Homo sapiens: one gene and its partner. The protein of the gene in region 1 purifies or fractionates together with the protein of each later gene. This does not show direct contact. Each region holds a gene or a part of one and is shown on either strand. Other genes may lie near its edges.

What was found. Proteins that work in one complex are often made in the same cells at the same time.
Region 2: the proteins of GNPDA1 (region 1) and SEC31A purify together in Homo sapiens (affinity purification with mass spectrometry; 2 studies listed by BioGRID and IntAct, with this or other methods). This does not show direct contact.

Annotation. Positions count from the first base shown.
Region 1 is NC_000005.10:142,002,762-142,010,640, reverse strand, and holds part of GNPDA1 (glucosamine-6-phosphate deaminase 1), read left to right. Parts: intron 1-2,740; coding exon 2,741-2,842; intron 2,843-4,314; coding exon 4,315-4,497; intron 4,498-5,524; coding exon 5,525-5,709; intron 5,710-7,378; coding exon 7,379-7,553; intron 7,554-7,879. UniProt on the Homo sapiens protein: Catalyzes the reversible conversion of alpha-D-glucosamine 6-phosphate (GlcN-6P) into beta-D-fructose 6-phosphate (Fru-6P) and ammonium ion, a regulatory reaction step in de novo uridine diphosphate-N-acetyl-alpha-D-glucosamine (UDP-GlcNAc) biosynthesis via hexosamine pathway.
Region 2 is NC_000004.12:82,817,943-82,825,821, reverse strand, and holds the end of SEC31A (protein transport protein Sec31A), read left to right. Parts: intron 1-1,147; coding exon 1,148-1,267; intron 1,268-4,713; coding exon 4,714-4,785; intron 4,786-6,568; coding exon 6,569-6,748; 3' UTR 6,749-7,313; downstream 7,314-7,879. UniProt on the Homo sapiens protein: Component of the coat protein complex II (COPII) which promotes the formation of transport vesicles from the endoplasmic reticulum (ER).

The sequences.
Region 1 (7,879 bases):
TGAGGAGGCTACGGTGTGAGGTGTGAGTATTGCTTGGGCCAGGAGGTCGAGGCAGTGAACCATGATTGTGCAATTGCACTCCAGCCTAGGTGACAGAGCAAGATTCTGTCTCAAAAAAAAAAAAAAAAAGAAAGAAAAGAAAACCATTCTTAACTCATAAGCTGTATAAAAACAGGCCACAGGGCCGGGTGTGGTGGCTCACGCCTGTAATCCCAGCACTTTGGGAGGCTGAGGTGGGTCGATCATTTGAAGTCAGGAATTTGAGACCAGCCTGGCCAACATGGTGAAACCCTGCCTCTACTAAAAATATAAAAATTAGCTGGGCATGGTGGCGGGCACCTATAATCCCAGCTACTCAGGAGGCTGAGGCAGGAGAATCAATTGAACCCAGCAGATAGAGGTTACAGTGAGCTGAGATTGTGCCACTGCACTCCAGCTTGGGTGACAGCGATACTCTGTCTAAAAAAATAAAAAATAAAGGCCGCAGGCCAAATTTGGCCTGTGGACCAAAGTTTGCTGAGTTCTGCACTAGAGGTTTGTGGGAGTAGTATCCACCTGTGCCTGTGAAACTACCAATGTCTCAGGCCCTCGGAGGCTGTGCTAACATCCTGTCTCCTAACTGTGGAGAGACCCAACCTCTGTATGGGTCAGAGTCTGGCCTTCTGAAACCATTCCCTCGTTCCCATCATTGCAGAGTCAGATCCAAGCTCTTCAGAGTGGCATTCAAGGCCCTCCAAAACCTGGCCTCTCCCTGCCTGTCCTGCTTGAACCAACAGGACAGCGTTTCCACACGGGTTCCTTGGAACATTGCTTCTGTTAGATGTAGCACCTGTCAGGGTTCTGAGTGGAAACCACAGAAACCAACTCCAGCTAAATTAAGCAGAAAAGGAGTTTATTGGCTAGATACTGGGAAGTTCAGAGAATTCATGGGAAGGCTAGAAGTTTGGAAAATGGCAGGAGAGAGGAAGCTATGTGGCTCAGGCATAGCTAAGGCCTTGTCACACGGACCAACTAATTATTTTGGGTGGGCTGCGGGGAGCTGCCATTCACTCAGCAGGTATTTATTGAGTACCCTCTGTATGCAAAGCTGTTCTAGCCTCTAAGGATACAGCAATGAACAAAAAGGATATGAACTTCTGCCTTCTGAGGCTTAAATTATAATGGGAGAGACATAATAATTAGCAAAATATAGAGTATGTTAGATGGTGATAAGAGGAAAGGAGAAACATGAAGCAGGAAAGGATAGGGAGTGTGTCGGCAGGGGTGGGGCTGTGCAGTGTTGGATATGGTGGCAGGGAGGGTCTCATAGCCAGGGGCCAGGTTCTGTGGAGCCTTAGAATAACTGGTGTTGCTGAGGGTGAAATGAGAAGCTATTGGTGGGTTTTGAAAAGAGGGGTGACATGACGTAATCTCGATGGGTTTTTTTTCTTTCATTTTTTTAGTTTGCAAAATTTCAAATATTCAAAAAAGAGGAAAAAAACAGGTCAATACCATTCACCTAAATTCACCAATTGTTACCATTTTGCCACATTTGCTTTTACCTTTCTCTGGCTCTTGTTCTTTATCTACACACACACACACTTTTTTTTTCTGAACCACATGAAAATAAGTTCCAGACATCCTGACACTTATCTCTAAATCCTTCAGCACATATCTCCTGAGAATAAGGACATTCTCCTACACAACCATGATACCATCATACCTAAGAAAATGAAAAATCATGCCATCATCTAATATGCAAACTGTGTTCACAATTTTTTCTCAATTGTCCACATTTATCTTTTATAGGTTGGTTTTTAAAAAATTAATTCAGTGTCCAGTCAGGGTTCATGCATCTTTAGTCTTTTAATATACAGTGTCCTCCTACCTTTTATTGTGTGTGTGTTTTTATGACATTGACTTTTTTTTTTTTTCAAGATAGAGTCTGGCTCTATTGGCCAGGCTGGAGTGCAGTGGTGCAATCTCGGCCCACTGCAACCTCTGCCTCCCAGGTTCAAGTGATTCTTGTGCCTCAGCCTCCCGAGTAGCTGGGATTACAGGCACATGCCACCATGCCCAGCTACTTTGTGTATTTTTAGTAGAGACAGGGTTTCACCATGTTTTCCAGGCTGGTCTTGAACTCCTGACCTCAAGTGATCTGCCCGCCTTGGCCTCCCAAAGTGTTGGGGTTACAGGCGTGAGCCACCATGCCTAGCCATGACATTGACTTTTTAATGAGACTCAACTAGGGCTTCGCTGCTCCTCAGGGAAGTCTTCCTTGAACCCTGAAGCACTGGGTGAGCCTGTGCTTTACCCTATCACAACTGACGTTCCTGCTTTGTGTTCTACTCCTAGTGAGTTATCTTAGAGTAGCTACTGTCCCTTGCTCCCCTGTGTCCTTATCACATGGCCCTGTGCCTTGCACATATTACTTGTTCAGGGAGTATCATGTCAATAATGAAGTCTGATGTTCACTCAGGTACTAATCAGAGTGATTTCAGTCATCAGTGTGCTGGATACTGGGAGATTCAGCAGTGATCAAGGCAGACACAGTCCTGCCCTCCTGGAGCTTACAGTCTAGTGGCAAAATAGGCATTAAACAAGCAATTAATGGATGGATGGCAGTTAGGATTGGAGTACTGGGTAGGACTTCAGATCTGACAGGTTCTCCCTGTGAGCAGCCCTGACTTATTCCTGTGAACCCTCTGGGCTTCCAGACTTGGGGTGCAAGGGGTGTTCATGGGTGTGGCCACTCTTGCAGGGAGTACCCCACTTGGCTGCTACAAGAAGCTGATTGAATACTATAAGAATGGGGACCTGTCCTTTAAATATGTGAAGACCTTCAACATGGATGAGTACGTGGGTGAGTCTTTCTCTTTCAAGGTTCTTTCCTGATTCTAGGAGAGTGATGCTCCTCCTCTCATTGGCCCAGTCCTGGAGAGGAATCGGGGAGCCAGTGACATTTGATGATAGGCTCAATTATCAATACTTACCTCTTGGTTTACTCAGCTATAAAATGGGGCTAATAAAGCTGACCTCACAGGTTGTAAGCATTAAATTCATTTAATCCTTTTATGATAAAAGATGTGGAAGTTTCTTATACATAACAAATACTTAATAAATATTAGAGTATCTCCTTCTCCTCTGCCTGCTCCTCAACTCCATTCCATTTCTTTCTGGAACAAATGATTGCAAGTGGGATCCTGGCTCGGGTGTTTCCCCTAGGATCTGTGTCTGTGCTTTCTCTTCTGTGTGTGGCCTCCAGCTCCCCTTTCTGCCAGGTACACTTGAAGGGGACCTGAGATTGGTATCCTTCCTGCTGCTGAAAGACTATACCTTGGTCTTCTATCACCTCTCCCTCACCCAGTCCTTTTGTAATAGCTTCATTTTAAACATCCTTTTTTTAAAAAAAAAATTGTGGTAAAATACATGTAACATGACATTTACCATCTTAACCACCTTTCTGTGTATAGTTCAGTAGTGTTAAGTGCATTCACATTGTTGTGCAACCAATTTCCAGAACTCTTTTCATCTTGTAAGACTCAGGCTCTATACCCGTGAAACAACAACTTCTCATTTCCCACTTCACCAGCCACGGAAACCACCATTTTACTGTCTGTTTCTATGAATTTGACTACTCTAGAATCAAACTAGAGTATATAACTGGAATCATAAAGTATTTGTCTTTTTGACTGGCTTCTTACACCTAGCATAAAGTCCACAAGGTTCATCCATTGTTGTAGTGTGTGTCAAAATTTCCTTCCTTTTTAAGGCTGATTTTACATATTCTTAATGCTTAACATTAAACATTATTTTTTTTTCCTGGCCAAAAAAAAAAAAGTTGATCTGGGGAAGCCCTAAGATAGTTCTCTCTAACCACCTGGTGTTCAAGCTGGGATTTATTCAGGCTGAGTGGGGTAGAACTGGGAGTGGATGGTGGGTTGAGAGGCACAGGGTGAGGGGTGTGCTTGCTTGCTTTCTAAGATGAGTTCAGCCCTACCCCAGGTGGCCAGAGTGTCCCCAGCCTCTAACCTATGGTCATTGCCTTATGAAAAGCAGATCAGATCAGAATGTGGGGATTTCCCAGGCCCTTGGTGTGCAGTTACTCTGGCCAAGCCCTGTGGCCACAGATGGTGGTACTGGGTGGGTGGACACTTATGGATACTGGCTCAGCCTGTGCCGAGTGGCTAGGGGTCAGAGGGCTGGTGCCTAAGGCTCCCAGATGGGCAGACCCCTGGGAGTGTCTCTGTAGGTCAGCATGGTGTCCTGGCATCCTTCTTAGGAGAGGGGCTTTGGCTTGGCCTAGGCATAACCGAGTGTCTCACGGCCCCACAGGCCTTCCTCGAGACCACCCGGAGAGTTACCACTCCTTCATGTGGAACAACTTCTTCAAGCACATTGACATCCACCCAGAAAACACCCACATTCTGGATGGGAATGCAGTCGACCTACAGGCAGAATGTGATGCCTTTGAAGAGAAGATCAAGGCTGCAGGTGGGATCGAGCTATTTGTTGGAGGTGAGCTTGACACTCTGCAGCACACATGTCCAGGGCCAGACCCGTGGGAAGGAGGACAAGACACAATGCCTGTCTGCAGACAGCTTCTTCTGGGTGTGCTAGTGACCGTAGAGACAGAGGCGGGAGAAATGGGCCCTGCCTGGCTCTGTTACTCAGGAACTATGTTATCTTGGAGATCTCTTTCTGCAGTTTGATGCCTTGTCTGTAAACTGAGAGGTTTGGGTTTGGACTCTGAGATTCTGTCTACTCCCCAGTCTTAAGGTTTTATGGATCAGTCCTGGAACTTATCTAAACATTTAACATCATGGACTCATGTAGTTCCGGAAGGCTCCACACAGCCCCTGTAGATAGCCAGTTGAACCCCAGAGAAGTTAGGTGACTCACTCAAGGTTCACAGGTGGGAGCAAGTGTGTGCTTCTTGGATTTGTGCTCGGGTCCTCTGGGCTGCCCTTCTGTGTATCCATCTATCGCCACCTCTGGAGTTACCCATGAGGGGTAACATTGAACTGCCTTTTATTGCTCTAGAGATCACTCTTCTATACTTCAAGGTGGGGAGGAGGGGGGCAGGACCTCTCATCCTCTGAGATTTTAGAACCTTGGCAGCCCCTGTCCAGGTTCTCTGGGTGTTTTGTTCACTGCACCTCTATCCCAGCAGCAGGACCCTCTAACTACAGGCAGAAGAGACAGAGAAGGTCCACTTTTCTGACAATCTGGGGAGGCAGAAGCTGTTTGGAGTGTTTCCTCCTCAGCTTTTTGAGGGTGATAGCAAGTTAACAATGTCTGTGTGTGCCTCAGATAGACATGATGGGGAGGGTCTCCTCTGAGACAGTATGGCAAAGAGAAAGAAATGGTAGGGAGGGGGACAGATCACATGTTTAAGGTGTACCTGCCCAGGGCTGCAAATGAGAAAGGTGACACAGCTTTCAATGATTTTTCTTCAGACCCTAGTTAGGGAAGGAGAGATTGTCCATTCTTGAAATCTTGGATCCCTGGGACTGACAGGGCTGCACGGGCTCTCTCCCTATAGGCATCGGCCCTGATGGACACATTGCCTTCAACGAGCCAGGCTCCAGTCTGGTGTCCAGGACCCGTGTGAAGACGCTGGCCATGGATACCATCCTGGCCAATGCTAGGTTCTTCGATGGAGAACTCACCAAGGTGCCCACCATGGCCTTGACGGTGGGGGTGGGCACTGTCATGGATGCTAGAGAGGTAAGGGCATAAGGGCCCCACCAGCTTGCGCTGGTGGACTTGTCTTTCTCTTGTTAATCTTAACTATACTGGTACCACCTACATTCTTATTAAAGATGAAGGCATGGTAAATAAGGCTAAAATCCCTGCTGACCCTGTTACTCACTGTTCCTCTTGCGTCTTTGGAAGACATCATTATTCCCAGTGTGAGGTGAATCCCTTGAGCACGTTTTTGGTGCCTTTGGCTGACTGCCTGAGACAGCAGGCTCTCTGGCCTCAGGCCCCTTTCATGCTTTTCACAGGCAGAGAGGAGGCCAGCATCGCTAATGTTGGAATATTTGTACCTGACCAGGTATGGAGAGAGGGGTTCCCTTGTTCCTTGTAGTTGGTAGAGGTCACTGTTGGGACACCAAGGATGCTTGTGCTTCTAGCCCCGTGCTCAGAGATTAATAAATGTGGTGAAGTATGATTAAAATATAAGTGTTTTAAACTGAATTTAGCTTTTCCCCTAAAAAATTGGCTATCATTTGAATGTGAATTTTTTGTGGTTCCAATTTCCTTATTTTCATTAGAACTTTAGAAGCATTTTCTCTTCCTTTCTGACGTGTATAGACATGTTAGATTTACATTTCTTTGCCCAAGCCAATAAACAAGCATCTAAATCAGTGAAAACTTCCCTGTTTAAAGTGAACTTTTGTGAAATGAGTGATGGCACCCAGATTTCTGTTGGGTAATCTTCAATCAGTACGTGGGGTGGGGGTGTTTACTCGCTGTTTTTAGCTCTGCAGCTTGGAAACAGGTTTAGGGCCGTCTTTATCATGAGGGCATCTTGATCTGGGAAAGGACCTGGGGCTGGAAATCAGGAAATTATCTTTTCTAAAGAGTTCTGGGTTGCTGAGGGGTCCGGAAGAAATAGTCACATTCCCTCTCTGCTTCTGCATTCTAATCTTTTAAGAAAGGAACAGTAAATCCTGTTCACAACTCTGTGGCACATGTGAATTAAAATGAAAGGAAATCTACAGAACTGAGTTTTTTTCTCTTTTCCTGCCCTTGAATAGAGCTGAGTTCTTTAAGATCACTTACATTCTCGATATTTTAACTGTTAAGTGGAGACTGTGCCTTTGTTTTATTATATATTAACAAAAACCATCACCCCAAGTCACATTAGTTCATAGGTTTAATGCTGTGAACTGAAAGTGACCAGATAATGGGGCAACCTTTCTGGGATTCAGCCTTAGAGGCCCCACAGATAACTCCCACCATTGCTTGCAAAGTGCCCTTGCTGGTGGTGCAGGTTGGGAGCCCTCTTTCACAAACTGTGCTTGTGTAGAGTCACCCAGCTGATGGGATAGCAGGCCTGGGCATGGCATGTCTGTTTACAGGGCACCTTCATAGTCATCATCAAAGATACCTGGAGGCACTGTCACGTGGTAGTCAAGAACATGAACTTTGGGGTCATAAATGACCCTGGGCAAGTTATTTAACCCCCTGGGGCTCTGTTTTCTTATAAGATGGAGATAATGATGCTGCCTGCCTCGGGTTATTTGTGTGATAAAGCACAGGGAGCACTGAGCAAAAGTATGTTGCATGGTAACCACTTACAATGTGATATGAAAAACAATCATCCTTACAACTGTTTAGGGTGTCTGGAATGCTCCCCTCCATCACAGACTTGTTTTCTGATCCCCAGGTGATGATCCTTATCACAGGTGCTCACAAGGCATTTGCTCTGTACAAGGCCATCGAGGAGGGAGTGAACCACATGTGGACCGTGTCTGCCTTCCAGCAGCATCCCCGCACCGTGTTTGTGTGTGACGAGGATGCCACCTTGGAGCTGAAAGTGAAGACTGTCAAGTATTTCAAAGGTGAGGGAGGTGTGGGTCCAGGAGGAGGTGGTCAAGCTTAGGGTGTGCTAGGAGTAAGGAGTAGATCCAGCTTTCATCCTCTGGTCATTTTAATTGACAACTGTAATCTTAAGAAATATCAAACCCAACTGCATCACACTACACAGTCATTTCTCTTCTGCCTGTGACTGCAAAGATCCATTTCTGGAGATCTGTTTGCTCTGAGGAGGAGGAAAGAAAACGCAATGTGGTCCAAGGACTATGTGGTGACCTCACAGTGCCATTAAGCCTCAGGTTTTCTCTTTTCAAATCTTAAACAAGCGATTCCTTTCTTTTATTTACTTTCT
Region 2 (7,879 bases), on another chromosome or scaffold:
TCCACATTTCTACTGTAGTCCAAGCTACCTTCATCTCTAATCTTCATCAGTGCAGGAACCTCCTAATTGGTCTGCCGATATCTACTTTGATCCATCTCTAATTTGGCCTTTTTTCCTCTTTGCCTAAAACATTACAGCTTCCCATTGTTCTCAGTATAAGGACCAAAATAGTCAACATTGTCTGGGAGGCCTCAGTTCATACTCCTTGTTCTCTCTGCTCCAGCTATACTGGCCTTTTAGCTCCCTTTTACCGTGATCCTTCCTTTCTACATGTTATTCCTTTCGTCTGGAATGCTCTTTTTTCCTCACTTAACTGTTCAACTCCATTTTGTCCTTCCAGTAAAATTTCCTGAGAGAGCCTTCCCTTCCCTTCAGTCAAATCTCAGTTATAGCATCTTTTGTTTCCACTACGTGTTAACGTACTGCAGTTGCTATTTTATGTACATTGGTGATGTTTTTAAACTGTGCCTCTTCCATTAACCTGTAAACTCCCTGAGAACTGAGATCATTTCTGTATTGGCTCACCAGTAGTACGTAGCCAGTTCCTGGTAAATAGTTGCCTAATATTTTTTGAATGAGTGAAAGAATGAACTAATAAAACTTAACTTAAACATTTCTTCTTTGTTCTTTCATCTGTATACTCAGCAGCATCGGGATGTCTTCTCTCTTAATCTTTGGCTTAATCTTGCAGTTTTGATCACAGCCCAGTTAACAACCTCTAAGAGTAAAACAAAGAATAGAAGAATGCCAGCATACACGTAAATGAGCCAATAGGCAGAGCAAGCAGCCATTCTAACCAGCCGAGTGTGTTTTCCAGTGCCTTGTTTTTATTCTCTGCTGGCACATACTTATTTCCCATCAGTTATAAACAATATTGACCAACATATGTTACCTAAATTAATCAACTACTTTGTATCCAGTCCTGCATATGAAAATCCAAACTGTAGGAAGAGCGCCTACACTTTGTACTAGATATCTGGTTTTTATTTTTACTTATCGTAAGTGATTTCACACATTAAATTTTAATTTGATTTTGAATAGGTCTATGTACAAGGTTGTCGGTTTCTGTTTATCACATAGATTCAAGATTGTGTATATAAGGTAGCTTCTGGTCATTTCTGATCAGTTTTTGGTGTGTTTCTTCCAGCATGTGCAGTCTTTGCCAACAAAAAAAATTACCAAGAAACCTATTCCAGATGAGCACCTCATTCTAAAGACCACATTTGAGGATCTTATTCAGCGCTGCCTTTCTTCAGCAACAGACCCTGTATGTATTTATTTTTTTAAATCATATTTTGCTTAATTAGAAGAATCCTTGGCCAGGTGTGGTGGCTTATGCGTGTAATCCCAGCACTTTGGGAGGCCGAGGTAGGTGGATCATTTGAAGCCAGGAGTTCAAGACCATCCTGGCCAACATAGCAAAACCCCGTCTCTACTACAAATACAAAAAATTAGCTGTGTGTGGTGGAATACACCTGTAGTCCCAGCTACTCGAGAGGCTAAGGCAGGAGAATTGCTTGAACCCAGAAGGCAGAGGTTGCAATGAGCCGAGATCGCGCCATTGCACTCCAGCCTGGGTGACAGAGACTCCGTCTCAAAATAAATAAAATATAATAAAATAAAAGAATTCTTTATGGAGTTCTTCTATAATTATTGTTTGAAGTCCTACAAGGTATATTTCTAAAAATTTGTACAAAAGTAATAAAGCTAGCACTTACATAGTTTGCATTACATATAGAAATATATTTAATTGCTTTTTATATATAAATGTACTTAATCTTCACAATAACCTATGGCAGATAGATTTGTCATTTTTATTTTACAGACAAGAAAAGTAAGGCAGAGAGCAGTTAAGTAACACTTAAGGTCAGAGCCAGCATTCAAACCCAGACTGTCTGGCTCCAGAATTCATGCTCTCAACCACCAAGCTATACTGCCTCTCATCAACAAAACTGTATTTGGCACATAAATGGAGCATAATGGTGCTATGCAAGAAACTCAGATTTGGGATTTCTTTCTGAGCTTATATTGAAATTGTTAAAAGTAGATAGATCATCTTCTAAAGCTTTGCAGAGATGTTAAAGATAGTTAAATGTTTTAGATATCGGAGGCATATTTACATTTAAAGCAACTGATTTTACTTAGTTTACTTAAGATACCCCTGTATTGCAACAACAAACATTCCACAAAGCCAGTCTTAAGTGAAATTTCATTTTCTGCTAGCACACATTGAATATTTTTAATCATCGGCTACTTGTCTGCATGAAAAAACATCTTCTAGATCTTATTGTTCATCAGACATTGAGTATTAATATGTGCAGCCTTCTGCTGGTCAGTGGCTTTGTGGAAAGCCATTCTCTGTACTGAAAGTATCAGGAAAGCAGTTAACATAAACCTTAGTGCCTGACATTCTGGGAGTGATGGGAAGACCAAGGTGGAAACAAGAGAGCAGACGAAGCTGATAACCAGATACATGCTAGCCCTTATGCACACTTCTAAATAGACAGGCTGTAGTCATTCAAAAATGGAAGCATCTGAATAAGAATGACAACACACCAATTCTTCAGGCGTGAGTCAGTATAGAGAGGTTGGGAAGACACGTAATACATGGCCCAACTCAATACATTTTTTGTTAATTTACCCTTCTCTCGGTCATCATACTATATTCCTCTTGGATACCGAGGAGCTCTGGGTAGTAGAGAACCATAAAAGACAAAGTGTTCCTATAATTTCTGTAATTAGTTGGGGAAGAAGTTCTAATATCCTGCCTGTCCGGCTGCCCTTGCCCCCTTGGGGTAGGGCTCCTGTTTGTAGCTAGATAAGGTTAACTTTGTTTTTCTTTTTTTTTGAGACGGAGTTTCACTCTTGTTGCCCAGGCTGGAGTGCAATGGTGCAATCTCGGCTCACTGCAACCTCCGCCTCCCAGGTTCAAGAGATTCTCCTGCCTCAGCCTCCCTAGTAGCTGGAATTACAGGCATGTGCCACCACGCCCGGCTAATTTTGTATTTTTAGAAGAGACAGGGTTTCTCCATGTTGGTCAGGCTGGTCTCGAACTCCCAACATCAGGTGATCCGCCCACCTCGGCCTCTCAAAGTGCTGGGATTACAGGCATGAGCCACCGCACCTGGCCAGGTTAACTTTGAGCAAGGATTGTAAGGTTTCCTTTCCGCAAAAGTTCATTTTAATCAGTAGTTGGAATAGTTTTTATAGCATGGATGTATCTTATTTTCACTTTATGTCTAAACAGCACAAAGTAATTTTGCCACACAACTTGGTATGTAGCATCCTTGATGGCCTGTCTCTTCTCTCTCTTCTCCAAGCACACTGGCATTCCTTCCTTGAACACACCAAGAGCATTTCAGCGTCAGGACTTTATACTTGCTGCTCCTTCTGCCTGGAACTCTTCCTCCACATATCTGCATTGTTTGTTTCCTCCCAAGTTCAAGGCCTCTGCTCACATGTCCCATTAGCCATCAGGCCTTTCTTTATTACCCCCAACTCCCAACATGTTTAGCCCCCTTCCTCTATTAACTTTTCTTCATAGCAGTTATCACCATCTGACATGCAATATATTGTTCATTTAGTATCTTTTCTCACCCAGTGGGATATGAGCTACATGACATACAAGACTTTGTCCCTGGTACAGCACATAGTAAGCAGCCAATAAATATTGAACTAACATAAGGCTGTGGTATAATGTAGAACATTAAGTTAATCATGTAATTTTAAAACTGTTAGTTTTAGTTTTAGAATAGTTTCTTTGATTATACTTTACAGTGCTATGGTAGAGAGAAAAAAAAGCTTTTTAATTTAATAATTTATTTTACTACTTCCCTCAGTAATCTTAAGCTGCCAAAAGATAGTTTTCTTTCTTTCTTGGTGCTTTAAAGGCTTAGAAAAAGGCAGGATTAAACAAATGTAACTAAGTGTTTAAGTAGTATTTTTGAAAGGTTAAAACAAGATTCCACAGTTCACCTATATGTTTGCCTTCTACCACCCATAATCGACAATAACTACTTAGACCTTCTTTTTTGTGATACACTGACCCATTGCTGCCTCCTGATGCTTGTGAATATAGTGCAAGCAAACATGCATATATACCTTATCAAGTGAGTTTGCAGTTCATATGAAATCCAATCAGTACTCTTTCATGCACTGGAAGTAAGTCTCATCCTCTCCTCATCCCAGTCCCCTCCACCCTCCACCCTTGATAGATGATTGATCTCTGTTCTAATAATCTGTTCAAGTTTCTTTTTTTTTTTTTTTTTTTTTTGAGACGGAGTCTTGCACTGTCGCCTGGGCCTGGAGTGCAGTGGCGTGATCTCGGCTCACTGCAACCTCCACCTCCTGGGTTCAAGCAATTCTCCTGCCTCAGCCTTCCGACTAGCTGGGATTACAGGCGCCTGCCACTACGCCCAGCAAATTTTTTGTATTTTTAGTAGAGACAGGGTTTCACCATGTTGACCAGGCTGGTCTCAAACTCCTGACCTCATGATTTGCCTGCCTTGGTCTCCCAAAGTGCTGGGATTACAGGCGTGAGCCACCACGCCCGGCCATAATCTGTTCAAGTTTCTTAGTTGTAGTTGCCTCCATTTCTTTATAAAATGAAGCCATTCAACATTTTAAGTATAAGGTTTAGTGCAATGAGATAGGGCAAGTTCTTAGGTTAAAAGTTAATGTTCAAATATAACATCTATTTTTTCTTTCCTGCAGCAAACCAAGAGGAAGCTAGATGATGCCAGCAAACGTTTGGAGTTTCTGTATGATAAACTTAGGGAACAGACAGTAAGTTTTGGAGGAAAAGGATTTATGATAATCATTTATTCCTAGTTGCTAGTAAAACAGTTGTCTTATCAGCACTCCCATTTAGTATGCATGGGGGCAAAATTGTCATGACATTTAGAGAATGGGCATGGCTGTGTTGAATCATAAATTCCACTCACTGGGGTTAAGGGGATACGGGTGTGTGTGTGTGTGTTTGTGTGGGTGTGTTGAGAGAGACATTTTAACCCTCTCATAACAAGAGTATAAATACAAACTGGCCTGTGTTGGCCATAAGGTAGCTGACCTTCTGCTGTTCCTTTTATATGGCCCAGTTACAAGAAATCAAAGAGTATGCAGATACTCTGTTTTCCAGGGACTAAATCTATAATCTTTATCATAGTCTAAGACTCTTGACCCTTTTCTTTTAGGATAGCCATTATACAAAAGCAAAGCCAAATGTAGCCACAAGATGAATAGGGTAATGTGCTGTAACTATGAAGATAGCCAGGAGTAAGAAGTCAGTTCACTACGTTTGTTCTCTTGTCCCCACCTCACCATTCTTTTCTAAAATTGTCTTGTTTTATTAATGAAAGCACTAGGAAAGGAGAAGAAAAAAAGAAGTGGGACTTTCTTTTTATTTTTTCCATTTCAGCATTCCTCTAACCCATTCCCCACACTCAGTTCCATCAGATGAAAATAACCATTTCTCTCATGAGAACCAAACTAAAGAAAGTTGATATAACAGTGGAAGTAGTGTGGTCCTTGGACTGATCCAAAATAAAGTCTTCTCGGTGGGCACAGTGGGATATGCCTGTAATCCCAGCTACTGAGGAGGCTGATGCGGGAGGATCACTGGAGCCCAGGAGTTTGAGACCAGCCTGGGCAACATAGCAAGACCGCATTTCCAAAAAAAAAAAAAAAAAACAGAAGATACAATTAGCGTATACATCTAGATGAGTATATATTAAAACATTTTTTAAAAATGAGATCAAAATAGGCCAGGCATGGTGGCTCACGCCTGTAATCCCAGCACTTTGGGAGGCTGAGGCGGGCAGATCACCTGAGGTCAGGAGTTTGAGACCAGCCTGGCCAACATGGCAAAACCCCGTCTCTACTAAAAATACAAAAATTAGCTGGGCATGGTGGCACACGGCTGTAGTCCTAGCTACTCAGGAGGCTGAGGCAGGAGAATCGCTTGAACCCGGGAGGCGGAGGTTGCAGTGAGTCGAGATCGCACCACTGTACTCCAGCCTGGGTGACAGAGTGAGACTCCATCTCAAAAAAAAAAAATCCAAATAAAGTCTTCTGTAAAGTATGGACACCTATGCCAAGTAATGACATAGTAAAAAACTACAGGTTTTATAGTTTTAAGAGATGACAGGATTATAAAAAGCAGGTAAGAATTAGTAAATTTGGGCCCTTCCTTTGAGATATTATGATTAAGAATCTTTAATCTCCTTTTTGTGCATAGGAGAATTTTTTAAAGGTCTGAAGCTCTCTTAAGTGGAGAGAGAAATTAGCATTTCAGTTTGGAGAGGAAATCGGGCTGCTTTTCTGTAAGAAAATACCTGGCTTATACATGTATAATTCATAAATAACTTATTTATGTAAATCATTTTGTTGTGGTTGTACTTGATAACTGTTGCTTGGTTCAAGAAACTTTCTAGAAATGCTAAATGGTTTATATATTTTTATAATGTTTGTTTCAAATTCCACTTAAATATCTGGGTTTAATGTTTATGGAGGATCTCATGGGAAGTTATCCCTTAATTTAATTCTTTCTCTTGGTTCACTTTTGTTTCAGCTTTCACCAACAATCACCAGTGGTTTACACAACATTGCAAGGAGCATTGAAACTCGAAACTACTCAGAAGGATTGACCATGCATACCCACATAGTTAGCACCAGCAACTTCAGTGAGACCTCTGCTTTCATGCCAGTTCTCAAAGTTGTTCTCACCCAGGCCAATAAGCTGGGTGTCTAAAAGGACAGCTTCTCTTCCACTCAATATTGCCATTTTTCCAAAGAAACATGTTAAAAAAAAAAATTATAAGACATGGACTAGTCCTCATTAGCATGTTTGCATAGCAACCAGTCAAGAGCATTTACACTATTTCTGCTGATATACTCACCTTAGAACTGCTCAGAACCCTGGTGCTTTATTTTTGTTTTAATCTTTTGTTGCCAGTGATGATTTTCCTATTCTGCAAATAGTGTATTTCCTGGATTACACATAGTATGGTTTCCTGAAGTATTCTGATAAATGTGTTTTTTAAAACCTCAATATACTTTTTAGAAAAGGAGCATCTGGTTATGCATAAAGCAGAGCTAAAACTAAATTTCTTTCATGTCCTCCCTACTTCCTCAGTGTCAATCAGATTAAAGTGTGTAATCCTATTTTATGTGTGTATAGTCTTTTTTGAAACAGCTGCTTAAAATTTAGTTTATTTTTTGTGTCTTAGGATTCCTGAGTAAATAACTACATCTACAAACTGCTACATGGGTTTTAGCAGATATTAATAAAAATGGGATCACTGGCTTTAACTATATAGGAAAAGACTGGACATTTTTGTTCTGTAGAATGCATTGAGCTTTTTTCTATTTGTAAATGTTTCAATATTCTGTTTGAGTTTTAAGACTAAATTGTGTCCATTTTATAGCTAGAAATTTTTTCACCTATTTTGTTTAAATTACCTATAGCTGTGCCAGGCATGGTGGCTCACGCTTGTAATCCCAGCACTTTGAGAGGCCGAAGCAGGCAGAGGTCGGGAGTTCGAGACCAGACTGGCCAACATGGAGAAACCCTGTCTCTACTAAAAGTACAGAATTAGCCGGGCGTGGTGGCGCATGCCTATAATCCCAGCTACTTGGGTGGCTGAGGCAGGAGAATTGCTTGAACCCGGGAGGCGGAGGTTGCGGTGAGCCGAGATCACGCCATTGCTGTCCAGTCTGGGCAATAAGAGCAAAACTCTTTCTCAAAAAAAAAAAAAAAAATTACCTGTAGCTTTGAGGTTTAAGTTCAGAAAGAAAGCTTTAATTTCAGTCAGCCTGTAAATCAAAGCCACACATTTTGCACCCAGTTTTTCTGTCAAGTGACTTTATTATCATCTGTCTT